Linked DNA regions of Homo sapiens. The protein of the gene in region 1 interacts with the protein of each later gene in a biochemical or structural test. Each region holds a gene or a part of one and is shown on either strand. Other genes may lie near its edges.

Region 1 (6,152 bases):
AGAGGCAAGGAAGGGCTCTTCCCCAGAGTCTTCAGAGGGAGTGTGGCCCTGCCAACACCTTGATTCAGGGCTTATGGTTTCCAGAATGTATTCCAGAGAGAATACATTTCTGTTGTTTTTTTTTGAGACGGAGTCTTGCTCTGTTGCCCACGCTGGAGTGCAGTGGCGTGATCTTGGCTCACTGCAACCTCTGCCTCCCGGATTCAAGTGATTCTTCTGCCTCAGCCTCTCGAGTAGTTGGGACTACAGGCACCTGCCACCACACCTGGCTAATTTTTGCATTTTTAGTAGAGATGGGGTTTCACCATATTGGCCAGGCTGGTCTTGAACTCCTGGCCTCAGGTGATCCACCTGCCTTGGCCTCCCAAAGTGCTGGGATTATATTCGTGAGCCACTGTGCCCAGCCAGTTGTTTTAAGCCATCAAATTTGTGGTAATTTGTTATGGCAGCCCTGGGAAACCAATCTTACTTGTCTGTGCTTTTCTTCCATTTGTTTGTATGTTAAGTAATGTTGATGTGCATTCCTGCTTCTCTTTCATGCTGGGACCTTCCTAAAGGCAGGGATCGTCTCTTCCAGTAGGCCATGCACTCCAAGGGCGGGGGCTGTCCTGAGGTTTCCTCCTTCCTTAGGATGCCATCTCCTGGTCCCCAGCACAGTCCTCAGCACACAGTGTGGGCTCTGGAGGTGCTGCCTGGCCCTGCCAGCTTCACCTGTTTGGATTGGCAGAGGGCTCCCCCATGCAGGGTGGTGCAGGGAGACTCACTAACCACAAGAGGTCCTGCCCGGGGCTCCTCCTTTACCCCCCTCCTTTTGGGGCAGGCTGGAGGGAGGGTCAGGTAATGGTGCTCACACAAAGTCTGCCTAGAAGTCCAGAGGTGGGGGGTACTCTGGGCCTCAGCAGTCAGGACTGACAACCCTTTAACCCCTGATGCCCCAGAAAATGCCCTCCCTTAAAATGTCTGAGTACCATGCTTCTTTGGCATCAGGGAGGGGAGGGGAGTGTGGTGTCCTCTAAGTCTGCTCCCTGCTTGGCTGGGTTGTTTGCAGCTCCTTGGTCACTGAGTCCTTGTCTGCAGGGGTTGGCCTCAGGCTCCAGGTTGGGTCACGGTTCTAAGACCGGGTGTGGGGGATCAGGCTTATATTCCATGCTAGGGTTCTGGTGTTGGTGCGTGGGGTTGGGGTGGGACTGCAGAAGTGCCTTTTAAGATTATGTGATTGACTGATCTGTCATTGGTTCCCTGCCATCTTTATCTTTTGGATTCCCCTCGGAGGAGGGGGAGGAAGGAGTTTCTTTTGGGTTTTATTGAATGAAATGAAAGGGAAAGTAGAGCTGTTCCTATGTCCCGGGCTCCGGAGCTTCTATTCCTGATCCCTGCATAAGAAGGAGACATGGTGGTGGTGGTGGTGGGTGGGGGTGGTGGGGCACAGAGGAAGCCGGTACTGGGCTCTGCACCCCATTCCCGCTCCCAGATCCCTCTGGACACAGCATTTTTCTCCAGTGAGCACAGCCTCCCCTTGCCCCACAGCCAACAGCAACATGCCTCCCAACAAAAGCATCTGTCCCTCAGCCAAAACCCCTGTTGCCTCTCTCTGGGGAAATTGTAGGGCTGGGCCAGGGTGGGGGGACCATTCTCTGCAGGGAGATTAGGAGTGTCTGTCAGGGGCGGGTGGAGCGGGGTGGGGCCCTGGCTTACTCACATCCTTGAGAGTCCTTTGCTGGCAGATTTGGGGAGCCCACAGCTCAGATGTCTGTCTCAGCATTGTCTTCCAAGCTCCTAGGCCACAGTAGTGGGGGGCTCCCTTCTCTGGCTTCTTCTTTGGTGACAGTCAAGGTGGGGTTGGGGGTGACAGAGGGTCCTGCTTCTCTTCTAGGAGCAGTTGATCCCAGGAAGAGCATTGGAGCCTCCAGCAGGGGCTGTTGGGGCCTGTCTGAGGAGATAGGATGCGTCAGGCAGCCCCAGACACGATCACATTCCTCTCAACATGCCTGCCGGGGTCTGTGGAGCCTAGGGGCTGATGGGAGGGTGGGGTGGGGGCCGGAAGGGTTTGCTTTGGGAGGTTGTCTGGGAGATTGCTGAAGTTTTGATATACACACCTCCAAAGCAGGACCAAGTGGACTCCTAGAAATGTCCCCTGACCCTTGGGGCTTCAGGAGTCAGGGACCCTCGTGTCCACCTCAGCCTTGCCCTTGGCACAGCCCAGCTCCACTCCAGCCTCTACTCCTCCCCAGAACATCTCCTGGGCCAGTTCCACAAGGGGCTCAAACGAGGGCGCCTGAGCTGCCCACACTAGGGATGTTCTGGGGGTCTGAGAAGATATCTGGGGCTGGAAGAATAAAAGGCCCCCCTAGGCCTGTTCCTGGATGCAGCTCCAGCCACTTTGGGGCTAAGCCTGGGCTATAACAATGCCAACGAGGCTTCTTGCCATACTCGGTTTACAAAACCCTTTCACATACATTGTCGCATTGGATTCTCAGAGCTGACTGCACTAAGCAGAATAGATGGTATGACTCCCACTTTGCAGATGAGAACACTGAGGCTCAGAGAAGTGCCAAGCCCTGGGTCACAGAGGCGTAAATGGCAGAGCCAGGACCCACCTGACTCCAGGCTGTTTCCTGGCCTCCATGAGGCCACCTGCCCTATGGTGTGGTGGATGTGAGATCCTCACCATAGGGAGGAGATTAGGGTCTGTGCTCAGGGCTGGGGAGAGCTGCCTGGATTTCTCTTTGATGGGGATGTTGGGGTGGGAACCACGATACACCTGACTAGCTGGGTGTATTTCAGGGATGGGACAGACTTCTCAGCACAGCATGGGAGGTCAGGCCTGGGAGGGCCCCCCAGACCTCCTTGTCTCTAATAGAGGGTCATGGTGAGGGAGGCCTGTCTGTGCCCAAGGTGACCTTGCCATGCCGGTGCTTTCCAGCCGGGTATCCATCCCCTGCAGCAGCAGGCTTCCTCTACGTGGATGTTAAAGGCCCATTCAGTTCATGGAGAGCTAGCAGGTAACTAGGTTTAAGGTGCAGAGGCCCTGCTCTCTGTCACCCTGGCTAAGCCCAGTGCGCGGGTTCCTGAGGGCTGGGACTCCCAGGGTCCGATGGGAAAGTGTAGCCTGCAGGCCCACACCTCCCCCTGTGAATCACGCCTGGCGGGACAAGAAAGCCCAAAACACTCCAAACAATGAGTTTCCAGTAAAATATGACAGACATGATGAGGCGGATGAGAGGAGGGACCTGGCTGGGAGTTGGCGCTAGCCTGTGGGTGATGAAAGCCAAGGGGAATGGAAAGTGCCAGACCCGCCCCCTACCCACGAGTATAAAGCACTCGCATCCCTTTCCAATTTACCCGAGCACCTTCTCTTCACTCAGCCAACTGCTCGCTCGCTCACCTCCCTCCTCTGCACCATGACCACCTGCAGCCGCCAGTTCACCTCCTCCAGCTCCATGAAGGGCTCCTGCGGCATCGGGGGCGGCATCGGGGGCGGCTCCAGCCGCATCTCCTCCGTCCTGGCCGGAGGGTCCTGCCGCGCCCCCAGCACCTACGGGGGCGGCCTGTCTGTCTCATCCTCCCGCTTCTCCTCTGGGGGAGCCTGCGGGCTGGGGGGCGGCTATGGCGGTGGCTTCAGCAGCAGCAGCAGCAGCTTTGGTAGTGGCTTTGGGGGAGGATATGGTGGTGGCCTTGGTGCTGGCTTGGGTGGTGGCTTTGGTGGTGGCTTTGCTGGTGGTGATGGGCTTCTGGTGGGCAGTGAGAAGGTGACCATGCAGAACCTCAATGACCGCCTGGCCTCCTACCTGGACAAGGTGCGTGCTCTGGAGGAGGCCAACGCCGACCTGGAAGTGAAGATCCGTGACTGGTACCAGAGGCAGCGGCCTGCTGAGATCAAAGACTACAGTCCCTACTTCAAGACCATTGAGGACCTGAGGAACAAGGTGGGTGAATGGGCAGCAGAAGGCACCATTCCAGCTAGCTCCTTCTGGGAACAATTCATGCCCCAGGCCCCTGAGACCTTAAGATTTCTCTATAGGACAGAGTCCACCCCAGATCCCTTCTTTCGAGGTCTTGGATGCCCTAAGACTGATCAGTGAGAAGATGCTTTCCCTTCCCCAGCCTCCTCATCCCCTTCTGATCTCAAATCCTCAGACCATGTGAGATCAGTGATTCCTATCCTTACATTTTTTAGAGGAAGCAGTTGAAGCTTCGAGAGGTGCTGTGACCAGCTGCAGGTCACATAGCAAATTAATGGCAGAGCCAAGGCTGGGGCCCTTGTGCCCTACCTTCCAGCACAGGAGGCAGCTACTTGTTCTCCAGCACAGGGGAGGAGTGAGGCTCTAACGGGACCAGGCAAGACATCCAAACCACTCATTAGCTCACTAGTCTGGGCTGTGGCTGCCGCCGCCCATAAGCCTTGGTACAGGCTGGTCCCTCCCCACAGCCAGGCGGGCATGGAGAGCCTGCAGAGACAATTAGTGTGGTCCCTTGATGTGCCCTGCACAGAGAGAGCCTGGCAGGCTTGTGCCCTGACTCTAGCCCCCTCCTCCCTGCTCCCACATTACTTGGGAGCCCTCCCTGCTGGAGTCTGTTGGGCTCTAATGACTTGCATGGATTAGGGAAATTCAATGATGAGGTGGGGAAATCCAACCAGACTCAGGGGCCAATATATCTTCTTATTCTTCCCCTGAGTCCTCTTTTCTAATCCCCTGTGTTAGTTGGGTTTTATCTCTTGAGAAAGTTCCACTTGAAGTCCCATGGCCTGTGAGCTTGAAAAGGAATGTGCATATCTGCAGAGGACTGGCAGGGCTGGCTGATGCAGACAGAAGAGAGGTCAGCTCAGGAAGGAGGGCTAGGGAGCCTCAGATTATTCTCCTCACCTGGAGGTGGGGAACTTGAAGCCCCAAGACCCATTAGGTTTTGCAGCAAGACACTGGCAGAATTGGGACCAGAACTCCTGGGCTTTCGATTCTAAGCCCGGGGCTGCATCTACCCCCTCTGTTGACCATGAGTTAGCAAAGTCTTAGGACAGGCCTGGGGCATCTGTTTTCCTTTGGGCTGCTATGGTCAAGTTTTGTGGGGGAAAAGGGGGATTCAGGCAAGAACATGAAGCAAGAGCTTAATGTAGGCTACAGTGAAGTCCAGCTTGTGAAGTCCATTTGACAAATTACCTGTGCCTTTTCCATCCTGCAGATTCTCACAGCCACAGTGGACAATGCCAATGTCCTTCTGCAGATTGACAATGCCCGTCTGGCCGCGGATGACTTCCGCACCAAGTGAGTTTGAAATGGTGGGCCAGAACATCCAGTGTCCCCAGAGTAGGGCATTTTTGGAGCAGTGTTTCCCAAATAGAACTAGCCAGTACCAGGATAGGTGCATGAAAACTCCCTGGGGTGCTTATAAAAGAATAAGACTCTTGGGCCCCACCCTTGGAGTTTTGATTCAGCTATTTATAGCAGGTTACCTGGGTGATTCTGGTCCACAGCCAGGTTTCAGAACCGCTGCTTTAGGGAGAGGCACTTTCCACTTCCCCAGCTGCCCTTGAAGTATAGGAAGGAATCATAGTTGGAGGACTTCTGCATTATTTGTTGGCTGAAGCTAGAAGTGCAACCCCCTCCTGATTTCTGCAGCAAGATGAACTGCCTTATCCCCAGCCCGCAGGAATGTTCATATCTGAGCAATCAATGGGCACTGTGTTCAACCACGCCATTTTCAAGATTGGCTCCTTAAACCACCCACAAGGCACCAGCTCTGGGAGAAGCTGCAGGGAGAAGAGAACAAAGCCCTCGCTGTGATCAGGATGGGTGTCTCATACCTTTTCTCTGGGGTCATTCCAGGTATGAGACAGAGTTGAACCTGCGCATGAGTGTGGAAGCCGACATCAATGGCCTGCGCAGGGTGCTGGACGAACTGACCCTGGCCAGAGCTGACCTGGAGATGCAGATTGAGAGCCTGAAGGAGGAGCTGGCCTACCTGAAGAAGAACCACGAGGAGGTGAGAACTATATGGAAAAGTCAGCTTAAAAGAAATGCAGGGAGGCTGGGTACAGTGGTGCGTGCCCATAGTCCCAGCTACTTGGGAGGCTGAGACAGGAGGATCACTTGAACACAGGAGTTTGAGTCCAGCCTGGGCAACAAGGCTAGACCCTGTCCAAAAAAAAAAAAAAA
Region 2 (3,500 bases), on another chromosome or scaffold:
GAGGCCTTAAGGATTTAGGGAGCGTAGGATTTGCCAGGCAGTATGAATTACCTGCATGGTGATGTTTTTCCAGCTGGAAATGGAAAAAAAGATCATCAGTGCAGCCATACATTGGCATTGAAAAAGATAAAATGATGCAGAAGCATATGATAGAATTTGGAAGCCTGGTTGTAACCCCATATCCCCAGAGACAGCCACAGTTAACAGTCTGGCACATATCCTTCCATGCTGTTTCCCACTGGTATTTGTGCTTAAATATACACACACAAAGCTACTTTTATAGAAATACGTGTAAAAACATGGAGGCCAAAAGCATAGGCTTTGAAGTCAGACCTAGATGGAAATCCTGACCGTGTCTCTTGCTGAATGTATGAGCTTTGGTTTCCTCATCAATCAAGTGGGGCTACAGCAGACCTATGCTGTAGGATTTATGTGATGGATAATATATACATTATTTATACATTTATACATTTTCTTTTTGCAAAAAACAAGATTTTCTCTTACACATACTATTCTGTGACCTGCTGTCTCTGCTTTGGCTGGGGACACATTCCTGTGTCGTCATGACACATCTACCTCAGCCTCTTTTACCGACACAGCAGAGCAGAGCACGTTCCCTGTGGCTGTAGCATGATTGATTCAGGCAGGCCCCCTCTCACCCAGCATGCATGCCTATCAGCGGGAGAAGATGAAGGAGGAGAAGAGGAGGAGTCTGGAGGCCCGACGGGAAAAGCTCAGGCAGCTCATGCAGGAGGAGCAGGACCTGCTGGCCAGAGAACTGGAGGAGCTGAGGCTGAGCATGAACTTGCAGGAAAGAAGAATCCGGGAGCAGCACGGGAAGCTGAAATCAGCCAAAGAAGAGCAGAGGAAACTGGTAACTCCCCAGAGGGCTTCAGGAGGCTGTGGAGCAGGAGTGTTCCCAGCCTGAGTGTGTCGCACATGTAGGGTCATTCCTGGGTGCTCAGGTCTGATGAGATGCCAGTTAACTCCAGAGCCAGCAGGAAAAGAGCTTAGGTCCTTGTGCAGGGACTGGGTTTTGGATCAGTTAGCTGTAGTCTCTTTAGCCCCTTCAATCATTACATCTGAGTGCTTTTCCTTTCTTCCAGTTCTGTGGGTCCACAGAGATCTGGGACTAGTCTGTTTTACCTTCCAAAGTAGTTATGTGAAACAGTGAGCCCTAATCTGTGCTTTTCAGCCTGCTGTATTATTTTGAGACCCCCTAGATAGGACCTCTGTGTAGCATCAGATTTTGGCCCCCTTTTGTCATCATTGCAAGAGTCACTTGGTAGTGCCATGTGGTTCTCAGAGCTGTGCATGTGAAGCATGAGGGTTTGAACAGTGGTTGCAGTGACGGTGTGAAGGGAGGCACTCATAGCCTGAGCTGACTTCCACTGTGTGTCATCCAAAATGTGAATGGATTTGAAAAATGACATCAGGCTTTCCATTTTGTGTTTTCTTGATAGATTGCTGAACAACTTTTGTACGAACACTGGAAAAAGAACAACCCGAAACTTCGAGAGGTGAAAATCAGAGATCTCCATTGATTTATCTAAGTAGATGAAATCATGTTTCCAGACACTTTTTTTTTTGAACACGTATCTTGTACCGGGTTGAAACAGAGGAGGGAACCTTGAGCCACCTGAAAAGAGCGCCAGGCAGAAGATCTGGCACAGGCTGCGCTGAGCGGCTCATTCGGTTGTTGAACAAATGTTGATTGAACCTCCGCTGCCTGGTCTGCCAGGTGCGGGCATGGAGATTAGACATGGTTTCTGCTCATTAGCTTGTGTCCAGCATGGGAGCTCATTACAGGGCAGGATGCAGGGTGCTGGGCCAGCCTGAGAGGATGAGCATGGGCCAGCGCACTCAACTCTGGAGGGGTTGGGGAGGCTTCCCAGAGGAGTTCCTGGGGTGGAAGAGTTTGAAGGGATGTATGTGTGTAGAGGTGAGGAAAGGATGTTCTAGGTTGATGTGACTGTGAGAACCAGGCTTGAGACTCGAGAACAGAGCGAGCCCTGGGAGCTGAAAGTGTCTGGGTGAGGCTAGGATGTCAGATAGTGAGGGAGAACCCCAAGAAATGACGCTGGCGAGGCAGAGGGTGCCAGACATCGGAAGAGCTTGTGTGACCTTCCTCCAAAGGGGCTGGGGGCAGCATACAGGATCCCAGCTGCATTTCAGAGAGACTCCTCTGGTAGCAATGTGCCCGCCGACAGGGAGGGGTGCTGCGACAGCCCAGCCGGGGGTTGGTGAAGGCCTGAACTGGGCTGGCAGGGGAGGGGGTGGCCTCTTGGCTTGGTGGCCTTGTTCAGTGGAGATTTGGCTGCAGGGAGATCATCCCTCACTGTTATTCATTTATTTTCAACTTACAGTTTTTGTATACATTTGGTGCCTTCGTGTTATTCGTAGTTACATTTAGAAATCGCCAGGCACTAAATAATGGAACATCTGGTGCTTTTGTGCAGTTTGCACTAATCTGTGGGAGGACTCCTTAGCCCTGTTGGCTTCGGTGGAATCATCCAGAGCCGTTAAATCAGAAAAGTTTATTCAGAACATTCAAGTTAATTGCCTATGTTCACAGCTGTAAGTTGGGAAAGATTATTTTAAAACTTTTTTATAGAGACAGGGTCTCCCTGTGTTGCTCAGGCTGGTCTCAAACCTGGGCTCAAGTGATCCTCCCACCTCAGCCTCCCGAGTAGCTGAGACTACAGGTGGGCGCCACCATATCCAGCTAATTTTATAAACAGTTTCCCAAACAAAAGATTTGGATTGAATGTTGTGATCCATTTTCTAATCCAGGAGATTGTCTGCGCTCAAATCTCTTACTAACAATGCTAAACTTGTTGCACCTACTGGTGCATCACTTGATACAGGGAGTACGTAGTCCATCTGCTTTGCAGAGGAAACTTCGGGGAGCCAGGCACAGGGTTGAGTCTTCTCACTCAGCTGTCTCCCAGGGCCTGGCATGCAGTACATCAACCCAAGGTGGCCTTTGAAATTGTATTTCCATTTCAGCGTCCAGCCCAACCCTAGGGCTAGTGGGAGGGAAGTCTCTGTTACTTTGTACCAGCTCAAAAGATTGGTGTAGGAGTGCCTGGTCCTTTGGTCTTCTGATTGACATGCATTCACACTATACATGTTGAAGTCACCCCACGCTCTCTACTAGACGCCTGTGCCACTGAGTCCCCATGAAGCGAAGTCATGGCCACGTTCCCGCAGGTGGCACAGAGGGCAGGAGCACACTGTCCCCACAGTGCCCATCTGTCTGGTGAGGAAATTCACATCGTCCCCCTTCCATCCTCAGATGGAGCTGGACCTTCACCAGAAGCATGTCGTAAACTCTTGGGAAATGCAGAAAGAAGAAAAAAAACAGGTGTGGTATGTGGCTCTGGGAATAGCCGCGTATTCTGCTGTGCGAGACTGTTCACGTCTTTGCATTCGTTTACCGTTTTCAGCATCAGTGACTCCAGTTAAGGAGTGTAGTGTACTCTTTTCTTAGTTTACTT

What was found.
Region 2: the proteins of KRT14 (region 1) and TCHP form a complex in vitro, tested with the Homo sapiens proteins (one study listed by BioGRID).

What each region holds. Positions count from the first base shown.
Region 1 is NC_000017.11:41,584,084-41,590,235, reverse strand, and holds the start of KRT14 (keratin, type I cytoskeletal 14), read left to right. Parts: upstream 1-3,340; 5' UTR 3,341-3,401; coding exon 3,402-3,926; intron 3,927-5,178; coding exon 5,179-5,261; intron 5,262-5,822; coding exon 5,823-5,979; intron 5,980-6,152. UniProt on the Homo sapiens protein: The nonhelical tail domain is involved in promoting KRT5-KRT14 filaments to self-organize into large bundles and enhances the mechanical properties involved in resilience of keratin intermediate filaments in vitro.
Region 2 is NC_000012.12:109,903,274-109,906,773, forward strand, and holds part of TCHP (trichoplein keratin filament-binding protein), read left to right. Parts: intron 1-647; exon of another isoform or gene 648-663; coding exon 664-874; intron 875-1,463; coding exon 1,464-1,520; intron 1,521-1,555; exon of another isoform or gene 1,556-1,741; intron 1,742-3,298; coding exon 3,299-3,367; intron 3,368-3,500. UniProt on the Homo sapiens protein: Tumor suppressor which has the ability to inhibit cell growth and be pro-apoptotic during cell stress. Inhibits cell growth in bladder and prostate cancer cells by a down-regulation of HSPB1 by inhibiting its phosphorylation.